Homo sapiens: one gene and its partners. The protein of the gene in region 1 purifies or fractionates together with the protein of each later gene. This does not show direct contact. Each region holds a gene or a part of one and is shown in the gene's direction. Other genes may lie near its edges.

The links.
Region 2: the proteins of KYNU (region 1) and PPP4R3B fractionate together in Homo sapiens (co-fractionation; one large-scale study listed by BioGRID). This does not show direct contact.
Region 3: the proteins of KYNU (region 1) and PSAT1 fractionate together in Homo sapiens (co-fractionation; one large-scale study listed by BioGRID). This does not show direct contact.
Region 4: the proteins of KYNU (region 1) and PALM2AKAP2 fractionate together in Homo sapiens (co-fractionation; one large-scale study listed by BioGRID). This does not show direct contact.
Region 5: the proteins of KYNU (region 1) and SLC60A2 purify together in Homo sapiens (affinity purification with mass spectrometry; one large-scale study listed by BioGRID and IntAct). This does not show direct contact.
Region 6: the proteins of KYNU (region 1) and PSME4 purify together in Homo sapiens (affinity purification with mass spectrometry; one large-scale study listed by BioGRID and IntAct). This does not show direct contact.
Region 7: the proteins of KYNU (region 1) and ACAT2 fractionate together in Homo sapiens (co-fractionation; one large-scale study listed by BioGRID). This does not show direct contact.

What each region holds. Positions count from the first base shown.
Region 1 is NC_000002.12:142,960,885-142,965,287, forward strand, and holds part of KYNU (kynureninase), read left to right. Parts: intron 1-4,403. UniProt on the Homo sapiens protein: Catalyzes the cleavage of L-kynurenine (L-Kyn) and L-3-hydroxykynurenine (L-3OHKyn) into anthranilic acid (AA) and 3-hydroxyanthranilic acid (3-OHAA), respectively. Has a preference for the L-3-hydroxy form. Also has cysteine-conjugate-beta-lyase activity.
Region 2 is NC_000002.12:55,558,364-55,562,766, reverse strand, and holds part of PPP4R3B (serine/threonine-protein phosphatase 4 regulatory subunit 3B), read left to right. Parts: intron 1-3,798; coding exon 3,799-3,992; intron 3,993-4,403. UniProt on the Homo sapiens protein: Regulatory subunit of serine/threonine-protein phosphatase 4 (PP4). May regulate the activity of PPP4C at centrosomal microtubule organizing centers.
Region 3 is NC_000009.12:78,299,464-78,303,866, forward strand, and holds part of PSAT1 (phosphoserine aminotransferase), read left to right. Parts: intron 1-1,138; coding exon 1,139-1,199; intron 1,200-2,490; coding exon 2,491-2,560; intron 2,561-4,403. UniProt on the Homo sapiens protein: Involved in L-serine biosynthesis via the phosphorylated pathway, a three-step pathway converting the glycolytic intermediate 3-phospho-D-glycerate into L-serine.
Region 4 is NC_000009.12:110,157,218-110,161,620, forward strand, and holds part of PALM2AKAP2 (PALM2-AKAP2 protein isoform 3 (PALM2-AKAP2)), read left to right. Parts: intron 1-4,403. UniProt on the Homo sapiens protein: Binds to regulatory subunit (RII) of protein kinase A. May be involved in establishing polarity in signaling systems or in integrating PKA-RII isoforms with downstream effectors to capture, amplify and focus diffuse, trans-cellular signals carried by cAMP.
Region 5 is NC_000006.12:111,261,686-111,266,088, forward strand, and holds part of SLC60A2 (sodium-dependent glucose transporter 1), read left to right. Parts: intron 1-571; coding exon 572-740; intron 741-2,144; coding exon 2,145-2,261; intron 2,262-4,190; coding exon 4,191-4,403. UniProt on the Homo sapiens protein: May function as a sodium-dependent glucose transporter. Potential channels for urea in the inner medulla of kidney.
Region 6 is NC_000002.12:53,866,408-53,870,522, reverse strand, and holds part of PSME4 (proteasome activator complex subunit 4), read left to right. Parts: intron 1-984; coding exon 985-1,147; intron 1,148-3,642; coding exon 3,643-3,776; intron 3,777-4,115. UniProt on the Homo sapiens protein: Associated component of the proteasome that specifically recognizes acetylated histones and promotes ATP- and ubiquitin-independent degradation of core histones during spermatogenesis and DNA damage response.
Region 7 is NC_000006.12:159,768,038-159,772,440, forward strand, and holds part of ACAT2 (acetyl-CoA acetyltransferase, cytosolic), read left to right. Parts: intron 1-473; coding exon 474-591; intron 592-4,403. UniProt on the Homo sapiens protein: Involved in the biosynthetic pathway of cholesterol.

The sequences.
Region 1 (4,403 bases):
AAAGTTAAAAAAAAAAAGAGTAAACCTTGGGCCAGGCACGGTGGCTCACGCCTGTAATCCCAGCACTTGGGAGGCTGGAGCAGGGGGATCACGAGGTCAGGAGTTTGAGACCAGCCTGACAAAAATGGCGAAACCCCATCTCTACTGAAAATACAAAAATTAGCTGGGCATGGTGGTGGGCACCTGTAATCCCAGCTATTCGGGAGGCTGAGGCAGAAGAGTCACTTGAACTCGGGCGGTGGAGATTGCAGTGAGCCAAGATCGTGCCCCTGCACTCCAGCCTGGGCAACAGAGCAAGACTCCATCTCAAAAAAAAAAAAGCGAGTAAATCTTACATTTTTAAAAGAAAATCTGTAATCTTTTTTGCTTCAGGCATCTCTATTTAAACTGCTTTTTTTTTTTTTTTTTTTTTTTTGCCACTTCTGTGGTCTCACCTCCTTAGTAGCAGCTGCTCTGTGCATTTGCCTCTAGTCAGCAGGCCAGGCAAGCTGTAGGTGATGCCATTGGTACTCAGCTGGTCAGTCACCAGGAAGCAGACAAAATACTTAAGATAGGAAGTACATGCTAGGTCTATTAAAAATTCAACTCATACTTTGTCATACTATAAATCACTCTATAAATGAGTTTTCACTTAATGCTGAGTATCTAAAGATGAAGAAATGCAGAATTCAATTTTATCAGTAGATCAAATTTTATACAAGTTACTTTAAGGAGGCCATTTTATTCCTAAGACTCTTGAAAATTTTTTATACTGCCTGTAATGAGAGCTTTTTTTCCTACCCACTACTAAATCACAGTTAAATTGTTTTGAAGTCATGTCTCTTTGTATGTAAGTGTTTGTAAAAAGTGTTTTTAGTATTTATTTGAAAAAAAAGGGCAACATTCAACAGTCACAATTTGTGTTTAAAATCTTTAAATAGCACTTCTATTTCATTCAGCAATCAAGCCATGTATTTAAAAATGTGACAATTGAATTTTATTCTGAACATTAATAAGTTATGGGATTAATATACATGTGAGATCTAGTTAATATATTCAGTTATTGAAGCTAATGAATGGAACTAATTAAAATATATTTAGCACTGTTATCAGCAGTCTCTAGGAATTTCTAACAACGACTTCCAACTGCTTTGACGGATAACTCTGAAAGTGGTGCATTACAAAAGATATAAAGATAATGTCTTCTTAATTTAGATGTTAAATGTTAAGCACCAAAATAAAGGGAGGCCAATAAAAAATCATATTTTAAAATGTTATGCAAGTAATCAGCAGTCCCTGCTTCCTTAGTATACACGTATGTCTCATTAACCTTCCTAGACATGAGACAGCAAGATACAGAAGAAAGACCATGGGTTTCCATCACACAATCTGAGGTTCAAATCTTGGCTAGGTCATTTAATTGTTACACAATCTTGAGCAAGTTACTTGACATCTCGCTTTAAAAGTGCTAATTTAACATAACAGCACCCACCTTACAGGTTCAGTGTGAGAATGATGAATATAAAACACCAAATGGATTGGCACACATTCTGCTATTAAATGATGGTTTCCTTACCTTTCTACTCTTCTCAATTAATATGATATTATAAAGTGGTTGAGAGACACTTTCTTTTGTTTCCCATTGAAACACAAAATAAATTTGTTTACTTTAGGTTTTATAAGTAAATCTCATACTTAAGTACTTTGATTGCTAAAGCCATTTGTTAAATGTTTTGCAGGTTTTCTTTAACTTAAAAAATATAGTAAATGCCTACCAAGTTAGTCTCATAGAACTCTCAGTCAAATAAATGAAGGTAGGAATGAGCAGCTTTAAGTGTAACTATGAAGAAGCAATCAATACTATGGGAATCAAATGGGGATATAGCAGATGTAGATTTATCCATTATCAAGATTATTCTAACAAATTTTTACCCTCTTGCTGTAGTTCCTCCTATTATCAACCAAGGTGAGGCAAAGTTCTTTGAAATGTAGACTTCGATAGGTCTCTCTGGTGGTCTGGTCATCTGTGAATAAAACTGAAGAGAGAGGCAGAGAAGAAATTAAAGGTGTCAATCAAGAAAGAGATAGGAAATTCTAAGAACAAAGGGCATGACACAGTCACTGGTAGATTTGGACATGTGAGGCAAAAAAACGTTTTCAGAAATAAAGCATGGTGGGAATACAAAATGATGGTGGGATGGAGCAATGAGAGTCAATCAGGAGGTTCTGAGGTAAAATCTTCATAGTCATGTGATAAGGAAGAAGAAACAGAAATTGTGAAAAATATTTTAATTTAAGAAATGTATGTATACCAAAAACAGCATGAATCATAAGCAAATAGCTTCATGAGTTATTTTGAGGCCTTATAACCATCACCCCATCAAGAAAAAAAAAGTATTTCCAATACTCAGAATCCTCAATCGTGTCTTCTTCCAAATACTACCTGTTACCTTCTGTCTCTGTCCACTTGGGCTGCTATAACAAAATACCTTAAACTGGGTAATTTAAAAACAACATAAATATATTGCTCACAGTTCTGGAGGCTGGGAAGTGCAAGATCAAGATGCCAGCAGACTTGGTGTCTGCTTAGGGCTGCTGTTTGTTTCACAGATGACGCCTTGTTGCTTTGCCCTTCCTCACATGGCAGAAGGGCTAAGGGAGCTTTCTAGAGCCTCTAATACAAAGGGACAAATTCCATTCATGAGGAATCACTTAATCATGACTTAATCATTTCCAAAGCCCTGACCTCCTAATACTGTCACATTGGGTATAAGGTTGTGACATATAAAATTGGGGTCTGGGGAGACCAACATTTAGACCGTAGCATCCCCCTTTCAAATTTATAATTCCCCTAACTTCTAACCACATAGTCAGCTTTGTCCATTTTGAACTTTATATAAATGCATTATTTTGTCTAGTTTTGAACTTTATATGAAGGTATACACAGGTTGAATATTCCTTACCTGAAATACTTGGGACCAGAAGTATTTTGGATATTTTTGGATTTTGGAATATTTGCATTATACTTACTGCTTGAACACACCAAATCTGGAAATCTCAAGTGCTCCAATGAAATTTTTATTCTTTGAGCATTCTGTCAGTGTTCAAAAAGTTTTGGATTTTGGAGCCTTTCAGATTTCTGAATTTGGGATTTTAGATGCTCATCTTTTATAAAGTTTTTTTTTGTGTTTGGCTTATTTGCTACTTTTATATGTGTGAGATTCATTCATGCAGTACCTAGCAGTACTTTTGTTTGTTTTTTTTTTCTATTTCAGTGTATTTTTACATAGTATGAAATAGATCACAGGTTTTTTCCGTTTTATTTAGGGTAGATATTTGGATTTTATTTTCATTTGAGAACTACTAATATAATAATACATGCTACTCTAAATATTCACATAAATTTTGGGGGGTATACATTCATATACATTTCTGTTAAGTATATACCTAGAATTAGAATTCCTGAACCATAAGGTATTTGTATATTTATTTCTAATCAATAATGCCAATCCTCCAAAAAAGTTGTTCTTCTACCAGCATATATTAGACTTTCTGTTTCTCTACAGCTTCACCAATAGTTACTGTTTTCAGTCTTTATAATTTTAGCTGTTCTAAGTAGTTTGCAGTGGTAATGCGTGGCAGTTTTATTTTGCAGTTCCCTGATTATTGATAAGATTGAGAATCTTCCAAATACTTGTTGATTTTCTATATATCTTTTATGAAATGCTTGTTCAAGTGTCTTGCCCATATTTCTATATGGTTAGCTTTCTTTTCCTGGTTTGATTGTAGGTGGTATAGAAATTGATTTTGAAGGAGAGAGAAAATACAAGATTTCAAGTGGTCATCAAAGAAGAAAACTAATTAATAAAAAGAACAATTGATAATATGACTTTGATTCACACAATAGATTTAAGATACTGAGGCTTTTCTTAACTGAGGAGGCCTGAGATTGTAGCAAGTGGGGGAGGCCAAGGAAAACAGGTTAGAGAGCTCAATAACAAGGGAAGGCCAGCATGTGGCAAGAGACATCAGTTTGAAGATGCTTCTTCAAGATGAAGATGTGCCAACCCATCTTTTTGGAGCTCTGTCTTACTTCCATGTTTCTATATTTTTCATATTCTGTTACTTGTTTCTACTAGGAACTTCTTTCCTACACCCACTAATTGTAGATGTTTCTGATTGTCCCCTGCATTGTATCTCTAGTGATTTTTAACCACTGCCATAATTCAGCTACCACTGTCAAGTGCAGACTCCAGGCTACTCATACAATAGGAAATAGCCTGCATCTTCCCACTACATCCGGATGTCCTATATGTACCTTGGGATCAATATGCTCCAAAGAGATTTGTGTCATCCACAAGATGTCTCTACTGTATCATCATGTCACCATCTTTCTGGACCAGTACACTCAGCTTTTCTGTTCT
Region 2 (4,403 bases), about 87 Mb from region 1:
ATGTAGAGTTCTAGCATAGAATGGCTAATTTTGTTATGATCCGTAAGGTCCTTTCTAATACTGAGATTTCTAAGATTCTAGCTAATAAAGACTTACCACTTGTATTAGTTCGTTTTATACTGTTAAAAAGAACTACCTAAGACTGGGTAGTTTATGAAGAAAAGAGGTTTGATTAACTCACAGTTCTGTAGGCTTAACAGGAAACATGGCTGAAAGGCTTCGAGAACCTTACAGTCATGGTCGAAGGCGAAAGGAAAGCAAGCATATCTTAACCATGGTGGAGCGGGAGACAGAGAGTGTGAAGGAGGAGGTGCCATGCACTTTTGTTTGTTTGTTTGCTTTTTGAGATGGAGTCTCCTTCTCATTGCCCAGGCTGGAGTGCAGTGGCGTGATCTCGGCTCACTGCAACCTCTGCCTCCTGGGCTCAAGCAATTCTCCTGCCTCAGCCTCTCAAGTAGTTGGGATTACAGGCATGTACCACCACACCCAGCTAATTTTTATATTTTTAATAGAGATGGGGTTTCACCATGTTGGCCAGGCTGGTCTTGAACTCCTGGTCTCAGATGATTCACCCACTTTGGCCTCCCAAAGTGCTGGGATTACAGGCATGAGCCACCAAGCCCGGCCGAGGTGCCACACACTTTGAAACAACCAGATCTCGTGAGAACTCACTATCACAAAAATAGCAAGGGGGTTTTCTGCCTCCATGATTCAGTCATCTCCTCCAACACCTGGGGATTACAATTCACAATGAGATTTGGGTGGGGACAAGAGCCAAACCATATCATTCCACCCCGGTCCCTCCCTAATTTCATGTCCTTTTTACATTTCAAAACCAATCATGCCTTCCCAACAGTCCCCCATAACTCATTCCAGCATTAACTCAAAAGTCCAAGTCCAAAGTCTCATATGAGACAAAGTAAATCCCTTCTGCCTGTGATCCTATAAAATAAAAAACAAGTTAGTTACCTCCAAGATACAACGGGGGTACAGACATTGGGTAAATGCTCCCATTCCAAATGGAAGAAATTGGCCAAAACAAAGGGGCTACAGGCCCTGGGCAAGTGCAAAGCCCAGCAGGGCAGTCTTTAAATCTTAAAGCTCCAAAATAATCTCCTTTGACTCCATGTTTCACATCCAGGGCATGCTGATACAACAGGTAGGCTCCCAGGGCCATGGCTGGCTTCGCCCCTATGGCTTTGCCAGGTACAGCCCCCATGGCTGCTTTCATGGGCTAGAGTTGAGTGCCTGTGGCTTTTCCAGGTGCATGGTGCAAGCTGTTGGTAGATCTACTGTTCTGGGGTCTGGAGGATGGTGGCCCTCTTCTCATGGCTCCACTAGGCAGTATCCCAGTGGGGACTCTATGTGGGGGCTCCAACCTCACATTTCCCTTCCGCACTGCCCTAGTAGAGGTTCTTCATAAGAGCTCTGCCCCTGCAGCAGATTTCTGCCTAGATATCCAGGCATTTCTATATGTCTTCTGAAATCTAGGTGGTTTGAGAATCAGAGGTTACCAAACCTCAGTTCTTGCCTCTACCCCACAGGCCCCGTGTCACATGGAAGCCACCAAGAGTTGGGGCTTGCACGCTCTAAAGCCATGGCCCAAGCTGTACCTTGGCTCCTTTTCGCCATGGCTGGAGCTGCAGCACCTGGGATGCAGGGTGTCCCAAGACTGCACAGAGCAGCAGGGCCCTGGGCCCAGCTCACAAAACCATTTTTCCCTCCTAGGCCTCTGGGCCTGTGAATTAACATTTGGCTCCTTGTTACTTATTCAGATTTCTGCAGCCAGCTTGAATTTCTCCCCAGAAAATGGGGTTTTCTTTTCTACTGCATGGTCAGGCTGCAAGTTTTCCAAACTTTATGCTCTGCTCCCTTTTAAATATAAATTCTAATTTCAGACCATCTCTTTCTTCATGCATATGAGCATACGCTTTTAGAAACCGCCAGAAGGCCTCTTTTTTTTTTTTTTTTTTTTTTTTTTTTTTTTTCTGAGATGGAGTCTCTCTCTGTTGCCCAGGCTGGAATGCAGTGGCATGATCTCAGCTCACTGCAACCTCTGCCTCCCAGGTTCAACTGATTGTCCTGCCTCAGCCTCCCAAGTAGCTGGGACTATAGGTGTGTGCCACCACGCCCAGCTAATTTTTGTATTTTTAGTAGAGACAGGGTTTCACCCTGTTGGCCAGGCTGGTCTCCAACTCCTGACTTCGTGATCCGCTTGTCTCAGCCTCCCAAAGTGCTGGTGTTACAGGCATGAGCCACTGTGCCCAGCCCAGGCCACCACTTGAATGCTTTGCTGCTTAGAAATTTCTTCCACCAGATATCCTAAATCATCTCTCTCAAGTTCAAGTTCCACAGATCTCTAGGGCAGGGGCAAAATGCCGCCAGTCTCTTTGCTAAAGCATACCAAGTATGACCTTTACTCCAGTTCCGAATAAGTTCCTCACCTCCATCTGAGACCTCCTCAGCCTGGACTTCATTGTCCATATCACTGTTAGCATTTTGGTCAAAACCAGTCAACAAGTCTTTAGGAAGTTCCAGACTTTCCCATATCTTCCTGTCTTTTTCTAAGCCCTCCAAATTGTTCCAACCTCTGTCTATTACCCAGTTCCAAAGTCGCTTCCACATTTTCAGGTATCTTTTTTTTTGAGATGGAGTCTTATTCTGTCATCCATGCTGGTGGGCAGTGGCACAATCTCAGCTCACTGCATCCTCTGCCTCCAGGGTTCAAGCAATTCTCCTGCCTCAGCCACCAGAGCAGCTGGGATTATAGGTGTGCACCACCACCCCCAGCTAATTTTTGTATTTTTAATAGAGAATAGGTTTCATCATGTTGGCCAGGCTGATCTTGAACTCCTGACCTCAAGTGATCCACCCTCCTCAGCCACCCAAAGTGCTGGGATTACAGGCGTGAGCCACTGCGCCCTGCCATTTTCAGGTATCTTTATAGCAGTACCACATTCCTGTTACCAATTTTCTGTATAGTTCGTTTTCACACTGCTCTAAAGAACTACCTGAGACTGTAATTTATGAAGAAAAGAGGTATAATTGACTTAAAATTCCACATAGCTGGGGAGGCCTCAGGAAACTTGTGGCGGAAGGTGAATGGGAAACAAGGCATGTGTTACATGGCAGCAGGAGAGAGAGAGCAAGGGGGGAAGTGCCACCCTTTGGAACAACCAGATCTCGTGAGAACTCACTATCACAAGAACAGCAAGGGCGAAATCCACCCCCATGATCCAGTCACCTCTCACCAGGTCCCTCCCCTGACATGTGGGGATTACAATTTGATTTGCGATTTGGGTGGGGACACAGAGCCAGACCATATCATCACTGTACACATCATGTTCTTTTTCAAAAGTTCTTAGGAAACAAAGGCAATTAATTTTGGTGTTATTTTTTTTTGTTTTTTTGGTTTTTTTTGAGACGGAGTTTCGCTCTTGTTGCCCAGGCTGGAGTGCAGTGGTGCGATCTCGGCTCACCACAACCTCTGCCTCCCAGGTTCAAGTGATTCTCCTGCCTCAGCCTCCCAAGTAGCTAAGATTATAGACATGCGCCACCACACCCGGCTAATTTTGTATTTTTAGCAGAGACGGGGTTTCTCCATGTTGGTCAGGCTGGTCTTGAACTCCGGCCTTGGGTGATCTGCCTGCCTCAGCCTCCCAAAGTGTTGGGATTACAGGCGTGAGCCACCATGCCCGGGCAGCAATGTTTTATAAGTTTTTTAATTACTGCTGTTTTTAGATGTTTTGACTTAGCAGTATTTATTGATATACGTTCAAAATTTTACTTTTGCTTTAGCAAAAGAAAGTGAAGACAAGGAAAACCTTCCCAAAAGGACATCTCCTGGTGGCTTCAAATTTACTTTCTCCCACTCTGCCAGTGCTGCTAATGGAACAAACAGTAAATCTGTAGTGGCTCAGATACCACCAGCAACTTCTAATGGATCCTCTTCCAAAACCACAAACTTGCCTACGTCAGTAACAGCCACCAAGGTAGGTGAAACAGCATTACACACAAACTTTGCTTTTCCCGTCTGTGAGATTTTTTCATGTTTACTGAAAAAAATTTGGATAATCAAAACAATTTCAATGAATTGTTTAGAATTTTTCTGTTACCAAAATGTTGATTGTAGAATTTTATTTTATTTTATTTTATTTTTTGAGACAGAGTCTCACTCTGTCGCCAGGCTGGAGTGCAGTGGAGTGATCTCAGCTCACTGCAACCTCCGCCTCCCGGGTTCAAGCAGTTCTCCTGCCTCAGTCTCCCAAGTAGCTGGGACTACAGGCGCGTGCCACCACACCCAGCTAATTTTTGTATTTTTAGTAGAGACGAGGTTTCACCATGTTGGCCAGGATGGTCTCGATCTCTTGACCTCATGTTCCGCCCACCTCGGCCTCTCAAAG
Region 3 (4,403 bases), on another chromosome or scaffold:
AACACATTCTTAGACCCAGTCGTCAAGGCAGTCTTTTTTTTAATCTAATTCTTTTTTTTTTTTTTTTTTGAGAGAAGTCAAGCTCTGTCACGAGGCTGGAGTGCAGTCGCTTGGTCTCGGCTCACTGAAACCTCCGCCTCCCGGGTTCCAGCGATTCTTCTGCCTCCGCCTCCTGAGTAACTGGGATTACAGGCACCCACCACCAAGCCCAGCTAATTTTTGTATTTTTAGTAGAGACGGGGTTTCACCATGTTGGCCAAGATGGTCTCAATCTCTTGACCTCATGATCTGCCCGCCTTGGCCTCCCAAAGTGCTGGGATTACAGGCGTGAGCCACCACGCCCGGCCTTGTCTAATTCTTTATTGTTAAAATACTGTTTTTTGAGACAAGTTGCAATCCAGTTTAGGTTATAGCTGTGTTTTAATGATGCCCTCCTTAGCAAGCATCTTAAAAAAAAAGGTGCCTCCTATCTGTAGACCTTCTCTGGCTGGTTGCTTTTGCACTTATTTTGTGTTCATTTTTAAAGCTTTTCTTTTTCTCTTTATTTTTTATTAAGGGAATCCTCACATACACAAAGATAAAAGTAGTGTAATGAACCTCCAAGGACCCATCTCTGAGACTCAACAATTATCAACATTGTGCCAGTCTTGTTGCAGCACCCTGGGACGAATCTTATTCACAGCAGGCTCTTCCTTCTTCCTGCCCACCCCACGCTTCCCAGTCTAGCACCTTAGACCAAAAGAGATCGGAAAATTGAGTTACCTGTATAATCTGGGCATAATTTTTTTATCGTTGTCCCTTTAACCCAGAACTTTATGCATTCTTTACTTTAGCTTTAGGAGAGTGGTGAATGAGATTTGTGAAGGGGACATTTTCTAGGGAATCGGTAAATTCGGGCCTTTGGAAAAAGTGTATCAACATCAGTCACATTGCCTAATTTCATGCTTACCTTGTGTGTAAGTTGCATAATCGCTGGCTTTGTGGACATGGGAAGGAAGGAGACTGGCTGTGGGTGGGGATGGAAGCCTGGGGACCTCACTGTAGACCCTTCCTTGTCCCCTCGTCAGGTTTGTATGTTCAGAGGGAAAGCAGTGCAGAACATATTTAAATAACCCTATTTTCCTTTATTTTTTTCTAGGTGTTGTTAGAGATACAAAAGGAATTATTAGACTACAAAGGAGTTGGCATTAGTGTTCTTGGTAAGATTTACTTTTGAATTCTGTGAATGTCCATGTTTCAAAGGAAGCTTTTTTTTTTTTTTTTTTTTTTAGAGGCAGGGTCCTGCTCTGTCACCCAGGCTGGAGTACAGTGGCGTGATCATAGTTCACTGCAGCCTCCAACTCCTGGGCTCAAGTGACCCTCCTGCCTCAGCATCCTGAGTAGCTAGGACTATAGGTACACATCACCACACCTGGCTAATTTTTTTTAAATGTTTAAAACATTTTTTAAAGATCCCATGAGATGGGATCTCACTTTGTTGCCCAGGCTGATCTGAAACTCGTGGCCTGAAGCCATCCTCCCACATTGGCCTCCCAAAGTTTTGGGATTACAGGCTTGAGCCACTGAGCCCTGGCCCAAAGGGAACTAATTTAAATGCATCAAATATAGAATTACAGGGCCTATAGGGTCTTCCTATAGGCCTTTATAGATACATTTTTAAACTTTAATAGCTTGGGTTGCATGTCTGATAGAAACCATTTTGAAAATAGCATAAATGCTGGTGAGAGGTTCTGACATCTCAGCTTACCCTGTCATAATTGGTTTTTGCTAATCATAGGATTTAGGATCAGAAGATACTGTATATTTGCATAACAGTGCCTCCAAACATTTATAATATTGCTTTACATTCAATTTACAGTTTTTATTATACTTAAATACAACCTCATTAAAGTTTAAAAGTACATAAGCCTTTTATGAAGACCTCGCACATTGATAATCTTATTAAGTTTCCCCTATATTTTTTGGGAAGAGGACCTCTGCATTCTAAAACTTATTTTCTTTTATTTTTGGCGGTTCTGAAGACTGCATGGTATTAAGAGACCATAGGGTTAACTATATTGCTTATTTCTGTTAAATTTTGCTCCTGTTGGTTTGGGACATATACTTAGATTTCTGTGAAGTGAGATCACAGCATGGAATTTTGTGCTCCAGACCTAAAGGGCAACTGTTGCACATGGATTCCTGTTTGTGAGAAAGAGATGGTAAGAAGAATCACAGAGAGCATCACGGAGTGATGAATTAATAAATAACTTGCTCAGTGAATGTACCACTTGAAAAATCCTTCTGCCATGACTATAAAGCTAAAATGTTTGCAATTTGAAAATCAGTTTGTATGGTCCCCTAAACTAAGTGAGCCTTGGCCCACAATTTGAATGCAGAATAACTGAAATTTCCCTGTATTGTTGTTTACTTGCAAATTTCGTAGGTATTTCTGTTCATTTGGTTTTGAGCTGGAATATTTGTTATTGTTGTTTATCTTTCCTTTCACAGAAATGAGTCACAGGTCATCAGATTTTGCCAAGATTATTAACAATACAGAGAATCTTGTGCGGGAATTGCTGTAAGTTTTAAAAAGACCAAATCATGTTACTTTTGTTAGATACTTCCTAAATCTGGATGTCTTCCAGTATTTTCTACACTCTATTGTTTGTTCAGAATATTTCATAATTTAAAATAATCCTTGTAAGATTCTCTCCAATTCACTATTAGTACCTAACGCTTTTTATTTGTTCCCCATCCCGTGTTTATATGTTTTTGTTTTTATTTTATGTGATATTTCCAAAGATTTGAAATCATTGTATCTAGGAATGATTTTTCAGCACTGTGGCAGTTAAACTGGTGTGAAAGAGATGTAAATGACACAGAAATGGTCATCTTTGTCAGCATAATTGACTATAAACTAGTTCAGGTGTTCTCGAAGTTTGAGTCTCATACGATCTGTCAGAGTCACCTGGTTAGGGGGAATATTAAAAAATTCAAGTGGGGCCGGGCAAGGTGGCTCATGCCTGTAATCCCAGCACTTTGGGAGGCCGAGGCGGGTGGATCGTGAGATCAGGAGATCAAGACCATGCTGGCTACCACGGTGAAACCCCATCTACTAAAAATACAAAAAAAGAAAAAATTAGCTGGGCATGGTGGCGCATACCTGTATTCCCAGCTATTCGGGAGGCTGAGGCAGGAGAATCGCTTGAACCAGGGAGGCGGAGTTTGCAGTGAGCCGAGACCGTGCCACTGCATTCCAGCTTAGGTGACAAAGCGAGACTCCGTCTCAAAAAAAAAAAAAAAAAAAAAAAAAAAATCAAGTGGTGGGCACCACTTAGTCCTGCTGAATCAGAATCTCTGGAGAGACTTTATTTTTAACAGGCTCTTTGGGTAATTGTAAGAGTTCTGAACTGTAGGAACTACTGCTTAGACGAAATCTCCTGGGTTATCTGTACTGCCTTTCCTATCCAGAGAATCCCTTATTCTTAAATAGATTGCTATTTAAAGGAGAGATTTTTATATATTATATAAACATGTTCACATAAACCTACGAATATAGCAAGTTTGAAAGCATACCATTTTTTTTCCTGCTCACAGAAATAATGCACATTTATGGTAGGAAAAACACTGTAGCTCACAACTAAACTGAAATTAACTTTAACCCCACTAATCAGGGATAATCACTAATATGTTAGGACCCATTCTTGCATTATTACATTAACAAAATTGGAATTATACTGATTATTTCAAGTTTTCTTTTTCAAATTGCTTGATAAAATGATTCAGATGGGGCAGGCTTGGTGATATTTCTGTGAGGAGCTGTAGACGCTAATTGCAATGTGAATGTTCAGAGCTGGTAGCCATCTGCTTGGCTTCTCTCGTCCATTGGCCTGCTGAGTATCATGTCACATTCATAGGACAATCCTGTCCTTCATGGAGTGGGTATTTGGAACATCAGCCTGGGAGAGATGACATTTGACCACATGGCTATGAACTTCCTCTGACTGGGGTCCCAGTTCAATTTAAGGGCCTATCTTTTCTTCTCCTAACCTGGTTCCCACCTTGTATACCTGTACCTAGACCTCGGCCTGGTTTCTTTCCATCTAATTCTTGGCCTTGTTAACTGCCCTGCATCTGAATAATGTGAACCTGGAACTCTGTCTTGGGTTATCAGTCTTCCCAGCTGCTAAGAACCTCATGGCCAGAGTCTCCTAAGACCTGCTGGTTGCTTGCTATCCTACTAAGCACTGAATATAGGCCATACATCTTTCAGGACAAGATATTTACACTCCTACCACCCCATTCCCCAAGACCCTGCCACATTGCCCTGCCCTTTATTAATTTACCTCTGTATCTTTGCTGGAGCTCTGTTCCCTGGCCATCTGGCTTCCGTACACCTATTCCCAGGCTCTGACCTTACT
Region 4 (4,403 bases), on another chromosome or scaffold:
TGGGTCTTCTGGCACCAGTCTCTTAGCACATATTGAAGTCATCACCTCCTCCCCTGACTGCACTTAAGTCACAGATAGCTTGGGTTGGTTGAGGATCCTACTGAGTTTACCTGAGACAGTCCTGGCTTATGCCTGTTGTGGTGTTGTGGTTATTAATATCCCCTTCAACTCTTTTGTTGTTGTTGTTGTTGTTGTTGTTGAGACAGGGTCTGTCTCTGTCACCCAGGCTGGAATGCATTGATGTAATCATGGCTCATTGCAGCCTCGACCTCCTGGGTTCAGGCAATCCTCCCGCCTCAGCCTCCTGAATAGCTGGGACCACACGCGTATGCCACCATACCTGGCTTATTTTTTAACTTTTTTGTAGAAAGGAGGTCTCATTATGTTGCTCAGACTGTTCTTCAACTCCTGAGCTCAAGGGATACTCCCACCCCAGCCTCCTAAAGTGCTGGGATTACAGACATGAGCCACTGCACCCAGCCTGCCTTTCACTCTTGAAAGTGTCCCAGTTTGGGTGATAAACCATCTGGTCACCTTAAACTTGAATGCTATGAAGTTCACAGTAAGAATTCCCTGCTGTTTTATTGCCTTTTATATCCTAGCTGGCTAAGTTAAAGGATTTCTGGAGTTGAAGCCCAGATGCTGAAAGTTGCTTTCAAAATATATGGCGGTAAAGAAAGGAAGAAAGCAAATGGATATCTGGCAGCCTGGCTTCTCACTTGGCATCTCCCAGGCTTTCCCTTTTGTTTACACCTGAACTGCGTGGAGCACTGGCTCAGCTGCTGTATTAGGCTGCAGCTATTCTACTGGGCTCTTCACTGTATTAGACAGTGGGATGATGCCCGGCCCTGGGTAGCTGCTGCAGACATTTCCACTGCTGAACCTCACTGTAGGGGAGCCAGCAGCTCCTTTCGTGAGCCTGCAGGATTTTTCCCTGGCTACTCAGTCACTTTCACCAGCCCTTCTTTGAAGCCCCACTTCAAAGGATAAAGTTTGCCTTAAGAATTTTCTGAAAGTTAAATCATTTTGAAACTTGGTGCTCTAGGTGTCTGGTTTCTTTTCTCCCAGTGACTCTGCTCTATACATCAGCAGTTTTGGTAGAATTTAGCCAAGTGGGTGCCCCACACTCTGATGTGGATGGGGAAGAACAAGTAGAACCACTTAGCATGTGACCCACGCGAGTGTTTGCTGAACACACTCTACTTGTCACTTGTGTATGTCTTTTGTGTTGGAGTGCAGATGATAGGGAAAAATACTCCATACAGAAGGGTAGAGGCAGTTCTCACTCATTTCGTAAAGGCAGAGGGCTGGAAGCTCTTTTGTGCACACGCTGACACTCTGGCAGCCACCTAACAAATGCCAACCAGGTTGAGTTTTTCCTCTGCATGAATGAAGCTGCTTGGAATCAGCGTTTTAATATGCTGATTGCCCTTCACTTACAAATCAAAGAGGCAGCCTCCTGTCTCTATATTTTCCAGTAAATAAACATTTTGAAAAAGAAAGAGACCTAACTAATTAAGCTGTTAATATCCCTGGATCTTGGATTCAAAGCCAAATGTTTTGCACTGTTATTGCTATTACAACAGAACCAAGTTTGCTGTTGTTGAAAATTCTTAGGATCAGGACAAAATCTACCAATCCACTATATGCTCATTTAAGAGACCCAAATCTAAAACAACAAATTCAGATTGCTTCTAAAGCAAAGATATGATCATCAGTCAGGCTTCAAATGAGAGCCTTCTCCTAGCCCTTCCAATTTAGGGGACCTTTTCTCCTGTATCTGTGTCAATCACTGGTGAATGTGTTGAAGTTTACCTGTAGGGATGAACAAACATTCATTTTTTTCCTAACCAATCTGTGGCCCCTTTTCCATTTTTTCTTTTTCTTTAATACCAGAAGGATAGTAATAGAGAGCAGATGGATTGCTGGGGGGATGAGTTGTGTAACTGGCTTACCTATCCGTAGAAGCATAAAGTTAATTCTCTTAAAGGTAAAGTAATTCTGGTCTCTAGCCTCCATTTACATACACTATTCTCACAGAGAAACATGGCTTCTTAGACTCTCCACCCTCTAAGCACCTCAGTGGCTCACACCTACACACCCAGCATCTCCCCATGTTATGCAGCATCACCCCTGGCACCTCCATTTGCCAATATTTTTTCCAGTAAGCCACTTGGCAGCATTTTGGCATGCCGTTTTGGAGATGATAAACCACACCTGAGAATCAATGCCTGTCGCGTGATTAGAACACAACCATGTGTTTGCCCATCGAAAGTAACAGTTATTTGTGAATTGAGCAAAAATAATTCTTATTTTTTATTCTTTTTAAGGAGAAGGCAGAGTTAAAAACAAGACAGGCGCTGATCATTGGAATGTGTATAAAGTGTGATATGTTAGACACAATGGTATCGAGGAGAGTGAAAGACAGAAGGAGAAAGATAGAATGTAGCTACGGCTGAAGTTTTGCTGAGTGAGAAAAACTGATCTTTGCCATCAAAACAAGTTCAGTGTCCCCCGAGCCCCCATCAGGGGTGTGGTGGCCTCTGGGGTCCTGTCCACAGGGACTCAGCTCAGGGCCCTGCTCTCTCCAGTTTTCCACTTTATAAAAAGTCATATGCAGAGAGGCCCCTGGCTTATGGGAGTCAGGGAGTGGTGTTATCCAAAGGTTGTCCCCAACCAGCCATATTTGTTACTAGCTCAGAACTTGAGCAAAGTACTCCCTTTAGTTGCCACAGTCTTCACCCACCTGGGCTGATTTCTTTGTCCTGTATATTGGAGTCACCAATGAGTATCTCCAGCCTCACTTATTAATGGACCTCTTGGCTAATTCTGAGGGCAGGAGGATTACCATCCCCACCCCTACCCACTTACCCAAGGCTGTTTACCAACCTATGCAAGGCCTTTGTGTGAATTAGGAAAAAAAACCACCCTTGTTCCTCTATGAAGATATGAAGATGCAGCCCTGCACCAGCCACACATTTGGGGGGTAGAGTAGGGGACTGGGCTTTAGTACCATTCATCCCTTTAGTCTGATGCTTTTGTGCAGTGCACACAACACACACCCAGATGCAGCAATCCTATTCATATTGTGGGTTTCTCTTATCTGGAAATGTTCTCTTATGTGGAAATGTCCACTTATCTGGGTCTCATACCATTTCTGCTCAGTCATGCAATTCATAATGGACTAGTGAATCCTAGTTTCCTAAAGGGCTTCTTGATGCCTTGCAAAGCGACTGCCTCCAAGGTGGGGTTGCCCACTCATGGACCTGGAAGACATTTGGATCAGTGGGCACAAATGATGGGCTATTTGGATGTTTTTCCTTCAGGCATGAAGAACCCCTCTAGGAAACTCTGATTCATTAGTCCATCCTGAGTGACATGACTGTATTTAGGCAAACAGTATTTTTCCAGCCAATTGTTTCCCTAACCTGACCTGAGCCTCAGAAAGTGAAGATGATGGGTCATTGAGTCAATGATGCTCATGAACATCTCGAGGGTTTGCTTTGCCTTTCTCAGTTGAAGGGATGCTGACCAGAGTCCAAATCACAGCCTCCTGGATGTTCAGCCCCATCTTTACTTTTAGCGCAGGATCTGCCCTCAGTGGGGTTTTCCAGTGTGCTCTCTCTCTCTTTCTCATCCCATGACTTCATTACTGAGAGGTCATCCAACCACTCTGTCTCATCTTAGAACAAGAGAAGACCTCGTCGGTTTTCCTGGGCTACGTCAAAGCTGAGAGTTCCTGGCACACATTACCCTTCCAGACCAGGACATGCATTGAGAGTTGTGGCCATACTCTCGCTCAGTGTGTGAAGGAAGCCTATCTGCCTCCTGTTTCCCCAGACGCTACAGGAAGCTCAGTGATGCCTTGTGCTTCCCTAACTCTCTCTTACGTTCTCACTCGTACCCTAGTGAAGATGCAAAGGAGAGAGAAGAGCTCCTGACTTGTCAGCTCCCAGCCATTAGCCCAATCATGACAGAACTATAATTCCTAAGTGCTACATATAAGAAGCAGTCAGCAATCACAGATGTGTGATCCCACCTAACTAGTCTATGGCTATCAATGCCCCAAACCAATAAATGCTTTAAATGCCCCAAGCAGTGTAAATGTACGCTCATTACCATAATTCTGGAGAGGGATGTCCCAAATTGGTCCTGCCATCTCATTTTCCATAGTCAGGCCATTTTTTTCTGTACTTTGAGTAAGACTTTTAGTCCCCTATAGGAACTAAAGGATCATTTCAGTTCCTAAGTGCTCATACTAATAATCCTATATAATCACCAGAAATTGCTATCAAAGGATGATCCCACTCTCAGGAACTTACCCAGGCCCCCAGGGTTCTGACGAGGGAGGCTGTGTGGTCTCCCTAGGCAAGACTACCCTTAGGCCGGTTTCAGAGAATCTG
Region 5 (4,403 bases), on another chromosome or scaffold:
CGTGTTCAAGCGATTCTCCTGCCTCAGCCTCCCGAGTAGCTGGGACTACAGGCGCCCACCACCATGCCCAGCTAATTTTTGTATTTTTAGTAGAGATGGGGTTTCACTGTGTTGGCCACGCTGGTCTCAAACTCCTGACCTCGTGATCCGCCTGCTTCGGCCTCCCAAAGTGCTGAGATTACAGGCGTGAGCTACTGTGCCCGGCCAATTTAAATTTTTAATACCCAAATTCTTATTTGTGCATGTAATATATTTCAAAATGTACGAAACCATTTCAAAAATAGTTTTAATATTACATTTTATTAATACAGAATAGTCTTTTAAAGGTATTGTTCAGAAAGGAAACAGGATTGCAACAAAAAAATAATTTTTTAAAAACTGAGAGGTGTCAAAACAAAAAAAAAATAAGAGTTTTAGTCAAAACTAAAAAAACAGTAGTCTAATTCCCTACATTACATTGTAAATCCCAGACCCTCCGCCCCCCTTTTTTTTTATAGTGGAAGAAACTACCACATAGTTAGACATTATTTTAATGATTATAAGTAAAAACTTTTGTCTTTTTAAATTTTAGGGATTGAGTGTTGCTATAGTGGGACCCACGTTTCAAGATTTGGCAACAAACGTGAACCGAAATATCAGTAGTCTGTCTTTCATTTTTGTGGGTCGTGCCTTGGGATATTTGAGTGGCTCTGTGATTGGTGGATTTCTTGTCGATGTCATGAATTATTTTTTACTTTTGGGTAAGTAAATGCTAATTTTAGCTTCTTTATGACTGTCAAGTGAATTTACAAGTTGTCTTTGAAAATATGAAAATACTAGCATGCAGAATGGTTGGCCACTGAAATGGGTAGTGTTTAGGTGTCCTCAATGGCAGTTGAGTTTCCCTGGTACCTGCTTTCATCTTGACAGTTAGAGGGTATCTGTGCTGGGTCCCTCTGGAAATTTAGATTAGCTCTAGAGTGTCTTAGCAATCCTTAGCCTTTCCAACCACTATAATTTAGCTACCACTCCTGGATCACACACTGGTTGTCCAAAAAACTCTGCTTAGAGGGTTTAGGGCAGATTTCCTGGGGTCACCACAGATCAGAATGAGCTCTTTGAACCTGCCCAGGCTACACCCTGGATTGGGAATGAAGAGGGGAAGCGAGGTTGGGTGGACTGATGTAGGCTATGTTTTTGTTCCTGCTGCCCCATGTTGTCGTTGGACAACCCCAGAGTGCTCTGTCTCACCCTGGAAATAGATGGCAAAGCTGCTTTTTTTTTTTGAGACAGGGTCTCCTCTCCCTCTATTGCCCAGGCTGGAGTGCAGTGATGCGATCTCTGCTCACTGCAACCTCCCCCTCCTGGGCTCAAGCGATCCTCCCATCTCAGCCTTCCAATTAACTGGGACCACAGGTGTGAGCCACCATGCCTGATTAATTTTTGTGTTTTTAGTAGAGCCGGGGTTTCACCATGTTGCCCAGGTTGGTCTGGAACTCCTGAGCTCAAAGGATCAGCCTCCCAGAGTATTGGGATTACAGGTGTGAGCCACCACGCCTGGGCTGGCAAAGCTTTTAGCATATACTTTTTTTGAATAAATTGAAATATTTAGAGAAAATTTAGATTAATATGATAAAATTGTTTTGGAAGCAAGAATAATTTGTTATTGTTAAGGAATTAATAAATAATCCCTCTTATTTCCAAAGTGGGTTGAAATAACATATTTCTTGTATTTTCCTCCCTATTTCCCAAACTAATTTATTTAGTAAATTTTATTACAAACTACTCTAGTAATTGCATTTTATTTTTGTCTATTTAATTTTTTGCCTCATGTCTAAAAATTCCTGTTAGGTTCTTAAATGTGAATCATTTAAATTAGTTTTGGCTTGTCTCTTTTGGTATAAAACTTTGCCTTATGGTATAATTTACAGTTTGATTACTAGCAGTGCTTTAAATGTATTTGTGTTATAATTATTTATATTTCATAATCCATAAAGATTATAAAAGATTCAAATGAAATAATCACTTTTAGAAGCAAAAACTCTCATCTACTCATTATCTAATTTAAATTTGACCTGATTTTGCATGTTTGGACATTTATGATATTGACTTGATCCATGACTGCATGGATATTATTTTTTATAGCTGAGTTTCTACCTTCCCAGGAATCTCAATGTCGGCTACCACCGTTGGTCTTTATCTTGTTCCTTTTTGCAAGACAGCAATATTACTCACTGTCATGATGTCTATCTTCGGTGTTTCAATTGGCATTCTGGATACAGGTTAGTGAGCTCTTCAACGTCATCTCTGGGAGTAGGGACTTGCTAGAAGAAGTACAGCAGATGATACTAAACTGTCACTTGCAATGCCCCCTAAAATGACACAGACCTACTGAGTTGGTTGTGAGTCACTCAGAATGAATCACCCTTCTAGCAGCTATTCTTGCCAATTAGGGGGCCTGTTTCTGAGCAGCCAACTCTGAAATGAACTTAAAGAATTTTGTTCTATGAGAGATAATTGATTTACATTGTCCAAACAGGGAAGGGCCCCTGTGTGGGTAATTACAGTGCAGGTGAATAGGCCTTCATCTTGGGGTAGAACTTTATTGCTCTAGTATGGGAGGAATTGGTGGTTTAATAGGTTAAACCAAGTTTGGAACTGTTATTTGGCTGAGAAAGCATAGAAGCAGCAATCCAACTTGACATTTACCCTGACTTCCAAGCCAAGAGAGATCCATAGTGTGGACTAGGCTCTTTCTTTTTCTTTCTGTCCTCAAAGTTCCTGGCCTCCTGCAGTAGATTCTTTCCCGTATCATCATCATGTCTTTTAAAACTTACTAAATAGGCCGGGTGCGGTGGCTCACACCTGTAATCCAGCACTTTGGGAGGCCGAGATGGGTGGATCACGAGGTCAGGAGATCGAGACCATCCTGGCTAACACAATGAAACCTCATCTCTACTAAAAATACAAAAAATTAGCCGGGTGTGGTGGTGGGCGCCTGTAGTCCCAATTACTCGGGAGGCTGAGGCAGGAGAATGGCATGAACCCAGGAGGCGGAGCTTGCAGTGAGCAGAGATCACACCACTGCACTTCAGCCTGGGTGACAGAGTGAGACTCCATCTCAAAAAAAAAAAAAAAACCTACTAAATAACGGCGGGGTGGCTTACGCCTATAATCCTAGCACTTTGGGAGGCTGTGTCGGGCAGATCACCTGAGGTCAGGAGTTCAAGACCAGCCTGACCAATATGGAGAAACCGCGTCTCTACTAAAAATATAAAATGAGCCAGGCATGGTGGCGCGTGCCTGTAATCCCAGCTACTCAGGAGGCTGAGGCTGGAGAATTGCTTGAACCCAGGAGGTGGAGGTTGCAGAGAGCCACGATTGTGCCATTGCACTCCAGCCAGGGTCTCAAAAACAAACAAACAGAAAACCTACTAAATAACATAGATGACATCTGTTTACTCCTAAAACCAGCTTTCTACCCCTCCCTTCCCTGCTTTGCTGTTACGTGATCTGTTGAGGAAATATTTTATTTTACTTTAGGGTTAATTTTGTTATGAAATTATAGGGTAGAATTATATATTTATCTGAAAATATCTGTTGAAAAAAAAGAAGATAGCTCAAGATGTGCTGCTTCTTGCCTTTCTCCTCCTAGACGTTTAGACAGTATAAATTCAGATGCTAAACGGTGTCCTTGTTTCCTCTAATGGGCATACCAGAATCCTGGCTATTCAGGTTCCTGGACGTGTGTTTTGCATCTGTTACATACATAAGTAAGTAATTTTCCTCAAGTGGCTACCAACAGCAAGTACAGAAAGCTTTGGTAATTTGGCTACTATCTGATGATAAAATTTTGCCTTTTAAATATATATTTAAAATATTAATATATAAATATTTCTTCTGCAGTCTGATGTTAGAACTGTATTATAAAAAGCGTCTTGCTAATGTGCTTGGTTCTAGGAGGTAGTAGTCTACTAGACTGTAGAATTCGATTTGTGAGTATGTGATGTTATAATGCTTAGAGTTGTCTGGTGGTAGTGGGTTAGAATTCCTTTCTCAGAATTGATTTAGTTGCAATGTTTGATAATTAGAATATTATAATGCTTGTGCTATGTAAAATAGACTCACCCCCTTTCTGATAAGTGAACTTTTTTTTTTAATAAGTAAGTAACTGTTTAACTTAAATAATTTTTCCCATCTTTCATCGACAGGTGGTAACGTCCTTATCTTGGCTATTTGGGGGGACAAAGGAGCCCCACATATGCAGGCCTTACACTTCTCTTTTGCCTTGGGTGCCTTTTTGGCTCCACTGCTAGCTAAACTGGCTTTGGGTCCGACAGCGTCTGCTGAAAACCACACAGAGTCTGACTTCCATCCTGCACTCAACCAATCATCTGATGCTGACTCAGAAGCTCTGTTTGGAG
Region 6 (4,115 bases), about 89 Mb from region 1:
AGGTGCCTGTAGTCCCAGCTACTTGGGAGGATGAGGCAGGAGAATGGCATGAACCCAAGAGGCAAAGCTTGCAGTGAGCCGAGACTGCGCCACTGCACTCCAGCCTGGGTGACAGAGCGAGACTCCATCTCAAAAAAAAAAAAAAAAAACGAAAAGAAAAGAAATTGTGGCATATAAGCTTTATAGGAAATAGTGCAACCAGTAAAACATTTTATGATGTATTTCATATGCTAGTGTAATGAACGCAGCAAAGAACATGTTACGTACTCGACAGACGATGATAAAATTATGAGAAACCTTTTGAAGGAATACAACAGAGCAAAACATCTGTTTTTTAAAATTATCATTGTGTATTATGAATATTAAACAAATGTTTGTGATTTATATGTGAAACAATGTCTTTTTACCGCTTTTTTGTTTTCCCAAAAGTTGAGTTACCATTCCAATTTGAAATGGACTGTGTACACGCTTCATTTAGTACTTTTGTAAACTGTGTTTGTGATCTGACAGCAGCCTGTGAAATTCATAAGAATCACATAGGATGTAAGTCTCCATGATGTATGCCAATTACAGAAATTAGGTTGGTCTGTGTCTTTGTTACTAACAAAAATAGCTATAGCAGTGGCCTTCAGAGATGTAGAGTCTGGAAAAACTTGATCTTAATGTCAGGTTCTGGCACTGCTTTTACAGTTATAGCCCTGATGAGAGCTATCAGTAGGGAAAATAATTTATGGAGAAATTTAATTTTGCTAAAAGAGATAAAAGTTTATGCTCATAACCCTAATGTAGTTTTTATCCATTATGAGGCCACAAACTCTTTGAGAATCTGCTGAAATCTCTATTAAGAAACTGCCAAAGAGCATACACAAAATTTGCATGCAATTTCAGGGAAGGTCTTCACCCCAGTTCCCACACTACCCCCTATCCTCCATTATTCCCTCAGACTTAGAATGTCAGTCCTAATAGAAATTATTATATCTACAGGTTCGAGAAATGGCTGCTACTACCTTAAGCGGTCTGCTACAGTGTAACTTTCTTACCATGGACAGTCCTATGCAGATTCATTTTGAGCAACTTTGCAAAACAAAACTACCTAAGAAAAGAAAGCGAGACCCTGGTTCTGTAGGAGATACCATTCCTTCTGCAGGTAACATTGCTGGTAGGAAACACCTGTATCCTATTGGGAATTAATGAGGGTTAACCAGGCTTACTCATATTTATTGAATAACTTGTATGTATGTGCCCAGGTCTATGCTAGGTATTGGGAAAAGTTTTCCCTACTTTTGAGGAGTTTTGCATATAGAAAGCAGGACTTGGAATGTAGAAAAGCTAAAATTGAGGTAGATAGAAAGGAACCTGTAGAACTGCTACCTAACAACTATTGTATTCAGTCTACCCTCCGCCCAGAATAGCTTCATAAAAAAGAGATATTCAGAATTAGTTATTTTGGAGGGTCTGAAAAACCTGTTTTGGAATTTAGAACTTAAATGTAGATGTACTAACAGAAAAAACTAAAGCAAGCCTTGTTTTTTATTTGGAGAGGGGATTATTCGGTCCTTCATTAGTCCTTTGGTGAGAGGGTGCGGAGTCATTGCAGGAGCTTCCAATCTAATTGAATATAGACACAAGATAAACACGAGAATAAGATCTGACTACTATGTCATGTTTAAAAAGAAATGTAAATGTGATTACAAAGATGCATCTTGCCATGTTAACTGTAATCATAATAGAAAATACATAAAAAGATTAATAGTAAGTAGGAATTTTATTGAATTTAGAGGAAGTGCTTAAATATAAAGCTTTTACTGCTGATTAGTGTCTTAATTATGTCATAAAGTTACCTAGTAACAGAATCCAATAAAATATCAATGTACATTCTAGTATCTTTGCTTTTTGGGATATATATATGTATGTATATATATTATATATATATTATAAATATATTTTATAATATATATTATATATATTATAAATATATTTATAATATATATTATATATATTATAAATATATTTTATAATATATATCATATATATATATATTATAAATATATTTTATAATATATATTTTTTGGAAACAGGATCTTCCACTGTCACCCAGGCTGGAGTGCAGTGGCATGATCTCAGCCCCCTGCAACCTCCACCTCCTGGGTTCAGGCGATTCTCATGCCCCTGTTAGCCGAGTAGCTAGGATTGCAGGCGCGCGCTACTACACCTGGCTAATTTTTTGTATTTTTAGTAGAGTTTCACCATGTTGATCAGGCTGGTCTTGAACTCCTGACCTCAAGTGATCCACCCACCTGGGCCTTCTAGAATACTGGGATTACAGACGTGAGCCACAGCACCTGGCCTGAGAACTCTGTTTTTTTAATGATAAAGCACCAAAGTATTTTTAGGTCTTTTGTTACACCAAATGATATTGTTCACAATTTTGACCAGTCCAAATTCTCTTTTCCTTACCTTCAACTCCCTATTTTCCATGTGTCACAAATACAAATGTAATATGCTTTAAAACATGTGAATACACACACCTTTATTGAGGAACTGAGAATTTGAAACCACTTACACCACTACAGAACTAACTTACACTACTACAGAAAGAATAGAGACTCTTTAGAATACAGACATGCTGCAATTCTCTGTTTTAAGAAATAGACATTCTTCATACATGATGTGTTTACTAATGAATTGATGTATTCTGGGTAGGGGCGTCACATCCAGAAAAAAAAAACCACGCTAATTTTGATTGGAGATTGTTTTAGAATCAGGGATTGTACTGGCCTAGGTACAATTATGCTGTCATTGATAAGCAACTATGGAAGTCTTTAAAAATCCTTTTTTTTTTTTTTTTTTTTTGAGGTAAGGTCTTCCTCTATCGCCCTCCTTGGAGTGCAGTGGTTTTGAATATGGCTCACTGCAGCCTTGACCTCCCAGGCTCAAGCGATCCTCCTGCCTCAGCCTCTTGTCTAGCTGGAACCACAGGCATGCACTGCCATGCCTAGCTTTTTTTTTTTTTTTTTTTTCCTTGAGACGGAGCCTCACTCTGTATCCCAGGCTGGAGTACAGTGGTGCGATCTTGGCTCACTGCAGCCTCTGCTTCCCTGGTCAAATGATTCTCATGCCTCAGCTTCTGGGTATCTGTGACTTCACATGCCATCACACCCAGCTAATTTTTGTATTTTTAGCAGAGACAGGGTTTCGCCACGTTGGCCAAGCTGTTCTTGAACTCCTGACCTCAGGTCATCCACCCGCCCTGGTCTCTCAGTGTGCTGGGATTATAGGCATGAACCACCATGCCTGGCCACCAGCTGATTTTTAAAAATTATTTTTGGAGAGACAGGTTCTCACTTTATTGCCCTGGCTGGTCTCAAATTCCTGGCCTCAAGTGATCCTCCTACCTTGGCCTCCCAAAGTGCTGGGATTACAGGTATGAGCCACTGTGCCCAGCTGACAAATTCTTAAATACAGAATTATTTTTAGTTTAGCCTCAAAATCAAGTATTTGATGTGTTTACATGTAGATTCATTTTAAATGCAGAAATTCACATATTGAAAACAACACAATTGAAAACTAATTTTATCTCACTGTAACAAGTGCATTAGAGACATATATATATTTGCACAAATGTTGCTATTCTCTTTGCAGAGTTGGTCAAACGCCATGCTGGGGTGCTAGGACTTGGTGCATGTGTTCTTTCTAGTCCTTACGATGTTCCCACCTGGATGCCCCAGCTCCTCATGAATCTCAGTGCACATCTAAATGATCCTCAGCCTATTGAGGTACAGTTCTTCCTTATTAGTTTGTACGTGTATTATCAGTGATGTTTTCTAAGAAACCATAATAATAATTTCCTATACACTCTGAACTAACTGCTTTCATAAAGCTGCTGCCTCTGCCAAGGCTTAGTCTGCTCACCAGTAATTATTAAAAAATTACAGAGACCTTGCTGCCATGGATATTTGAGATCTTTTGGTAGTGAGGAAATTATTGTAGCTTCTATCCCTCCCAGTCCAATGGAAGTAAAGTACTGTCAATATTGTTGTGATAAATTTTATGTTTCTATTTTTCTAGCACTGCAAAGTATTTTACTGGAAGCTAATATTAAATAGGAAATTATG
Region 7 (4,403 bases), on another chromosome or scaffold:
CCTGCTGTTGAGTTGGTGAGAGTTAAGACTGGCCGCTACTCAGAAATCCCTCCCCATCATTTAGTTAGCCTGATTATTCTCACTGTAGACATTATGTCATCCATTGAAATAGGTAACACATTGTTAGCTTTACTTAAGCCCTTAGAGGATTTCTTCATTTAACAGATAATTAATTGCCTCGATGGAAAGAATAAATGGAATTCTTAAGGAAACAGGACACAGAATGGGTAGGTTTGAGGGAGAATTGAAAATGGGTAGGTAGGAGAGTAATCGTTCCCAACAATAGGAAAGATGAAGTCTGCTAATTCCAGGGGTCTTTAGACCTTGGCCTGGCTGAGGACCTAGAACTGGGGAGAAGGGCTGCAAAGGGGCCTAGATGAAGACTTAGGAAATACTAGATAGTTTTGAGTTGTATTCTGGGGAGAAGACTAATTGCAACTAAGCCTAAATCCATTTTTATTTCTGACTTCTAGGCTCCTCACTTGGCTTACTTGAGAACAGGAGTAAAGATAGGTGAGATGCCACTGACTGACAGTATACTCTGTGATGGTCTTACAGATGCATTTCACAACTGTCATATGGGTATTACAGGTAAGGCAGACATGGCTGAAACTGTATTAGCTTTAAAAAGGTTAAAAAGACCATATACTAATCTGCTTCTTAGGTGCTTTCGTCCTTATGGCCAGAGACTGTCTTAAGGATTTTTATATCTCTTCTTTGATTAACTGAAGTGAAGTAAGTATTCTCTTCTTTGTGAACTCTTGATTATCAGAGAATGTTAGAAGTGGGAAGTACCTCAGAGTTCTTCTGGATCAACCCCTCATTTTACCAAATGAAGAAACAGGGCCCACAAATAGTGCTTCTGTGGCAGAGGTAGTGACAGAGATAAACCAGTTGTTTTTTTGGTACCTAGCTGTACTTTTTGTACTACACAATTGGGTTATTGGTCATTCATGCTGAAGGGTCCTGTGGTCTAAGTTTAATGGCAAAGCAACTGGGAAATCAAAAGCACTCTTGTCTTTAGTATACATGTAAAACTTAAGAAACAGAATAGACATTTTAGAGTTAAAGAATCAAACCCTGAGAAGTTAAGCACCTTGCTCAAATGCATGCAGCAATGGCTCTGGTTTTATGTAACACATAAATATGTGAAAAAGGTAATGGGGAAAAGTACAAGATTCCAAGAGGGAACTGTGTGCATGAATGCTAGGAAGGAAGGAAGGGCTTAGGGATATGGGAAGCAATGAGAAGCTCAAGGCATCTTGACCACTTCTCGACTTACAGCCACAACAGAGAAGGCTATAAAAACACAGGCAGACAATGGAAGACACTGTGTGACCAACTGCCTCAACCATAACTAGAGGTGGTCATTAAAAATTCAGATCCCGAGCCCTTTCCAAGGTGTACTGTGGATTGAATGGTACTCTTCCAGCCTCCAGAACTGTAAGAAAATAAATTGCTCTTCTTTAGAAAAAAAGAAAAGAAAAAAGGCTCAGGTCATGATGGAGTAATTGACAAAGATTAGATTTCCTACTATAAACAAGCATAAAACTTGTGAAAATATATAAAGCCACTGTTTTATGTATGTCAGGTTTTGACTAATACTCATGTAAGACTGAGATCCTTGAGAGAAGGGAAAACCCCACTGTCACTGTCTCTACCCAGGGCACTTCCCAAACTGTGTTATGGAGAGGCAGAGCCTAAGCTGGAAACAGTGGTCTCAGTGATCTGAAGAAGCAGAGAATTTGGGGCTTCTGAGATGGCTGGAGTTTGTGGGGCAGAATAAGGGGGAGAAGAAAAAAAGAGCTCCAGAAATCTGCAAAAGGTTCCCCTTAAGTCTTTGATCAAATACTAAGCTTGTAGATAACAGCTTACAAGGCCTAGTAGAAAAGAGCTGCAAAGGAGAGGTGAACTGGAGATTTTATAGATTACTAGGAGATAAAAGTTCTGGACAAGCGAGTGGAAACCTTACTGAACTCCTTGGACACTCCATTGACATCTCAGAAAGACCACAGTTTAGGGGTAGGGCCAAAGCCATAGAGTAAAAGCTACTCTAGACCCAAACTAATAAGCTTAAAAACAAGCCTCAAAAGGATCAAGGTGATTTGCCAGTATTTTGACTGCTTGTGGAAACAAAACTCAATATATTCTCTAAAGATAATAAAATCTCTATGTCCAGTTATGTAGCAACTATAATGTTCAGCATGCAATGAGAACTTTCTAGATACACAAAGAATTAGGAAAATATAGCTTACAACCAGGGTGGAAAAAAACCACAACAGTCAACAGACCCTGCAATACTAGAATTATCAGATGAGGATCTTAAAGGCTCTATTTTACATATGTTTAAAGATACAAAGGAAAATATAATCTTCATAGAGGAATAGATGTGGACATCTCAGGAGTAAAAGGAAAAAATATAAACAAGAACCAAATAGAAATTCTAGAACTTGCAAAGTACACAATCTGAAATTAAGAATTCACTGGGATGGGGCCGGGCATGGTGGCTCGCACCTGTAATCCCAGCACCTTGGGAGGCTGAGGTGGGAGGATCACTTGAGGCTGGGGGTTTGAGACTAGGCTGAGCAACATAGTTAGACCTCATCTCTAAAAAAAAAGAAAAAAAAATTCTGAATGGCCTTAACAGCATCTTGGAGACAGAAGAAAAAGGGTCAGGAAGTTTGAAGATAGATCATATACACGACCTGAAGAACACAGAGAAAAATAATGAAGAATAAATGAACAGGCCAGGCACGGTAGCTCACGCTTGTAATCCCAGCACTTTGGGAGGCCAAGCCGGGTAGATCATCTGAGGTCAGGAGTTCAAGACCAGCCTGGCCAACATGGGGAAACCCTGTCTCTACTAAAAATACAAAAATGAGCTGGATGTGGTGGCCCATGCCTGTAATCCCAACTACTTGGGAGGCTGAGGCAGAAGAATAGCTTGAACCCAGGAGGTGGAGGTTGCAGCAAGCTGAGATCACACCATTGCGCTCCAGCCTGGGTAACAAACAAAACTCTGTCTCAAAAAATTAAATTAAATTAAATTAAATTAAAAAATAGGCCAGGTGTGGTGGCTCATGCCTGTAATCCCAGCACTTTGGGAGGTCAATGCAGGCAGATCACCTGAGGTCGGGAGTTTGAGACCCACATGACCAACATGGAGAAACTCCATCTCTACTAAAAATACAAAATTAGCCAGGCTGGTGGCGCATGCCTGTAATCCCAGCTACTCGGGAGGCTGAGGCAGGAGAATCGCTTGAACCTGGGAGGCGGAGGTTGCGTTGAGCTGAGATCACGCCATTGCACTCCAGCCTGAGCAACAAGAATGAAACTCCGTCTCAAAAAAATAAAATATAAATGAACAGAGCCTTGGTGGTCTGCAGGACAAAATAAATAGGACTAGCATGCATGGAATAGGAATCTCATACATAAGGAAGAGAGAGAATGGGGCAGAAAAAAACTGAAGAAAATTTCCACATTTGGTGTGAAAAGAAGTTCAAAGACCAAGATAGACAAGGGAAAAATTACACCTTAGCAAATTGTAGCAAAAAGTTAAAAAAAGATCATGCCACTGCACTCCAGTCTGGGCAACAGAGTGAGACTCTGTCTCAAAAAAAAAAAAAACAAGAGTGAAAGTGAAGAGCCATTTTTAGATGAAGGAAAATGAATTGCCTGCACACCTACACTACAAGAAATACTAAAGGAGCCAGGCATGGTGGTATGTGCCTGTAGTCCCACCTACTCAAGAGCTGAGGCAAGAGATTGCTTGAGTCCAAGAGTTTGAGTCTAGCCTGGGCAATGCTATCATAGTCTACTATGATTGCACCTGTGAGTATCTACTGCATTCCAGTCTGGTTAACATAGTGACACAACAACAACAACAACAACAAAAGAATAGCTTCCAGCCGGGCGCGGTGGCTCACGCCTGTAATCCTAGCACTTTGGGAGGCCGAGGCGGGCGGATCATGAGGTCAGGAGATTGAGACCATCCTGGCTAACACGGTGAAACCCCATCTCTACTAAAACTACAAAAAATTAGCCAGGTGTTGCAGCAGGTGCCTGTAGTCCCAGCTACTCTGGAGGCCAAGGGAGGAGACTTGCTTGAACCTAAGAGGCGGAGGTTGCAGTAAGCTGAGATATTGCACCATTGCACTCCAGCCTGGGCAACAAGAATGAAACTCCATCTCTAAATAAATAAATAAATAGTGTAAATAAATACTGTATAAAATGCAAAGCACTCAGAATAGCCAAAACAATTTTGAAGTCAGAAAATAGCACTTACATGCTCTGATTTTAACATTACCTATAAAGCTGTTGTAAACAAGACAATGTGGTTTTGGCATAAGGACAGAGAAAGAGAACAGAGTTCAGAAATAGACCCAGACTTATGCTTGTTTTCA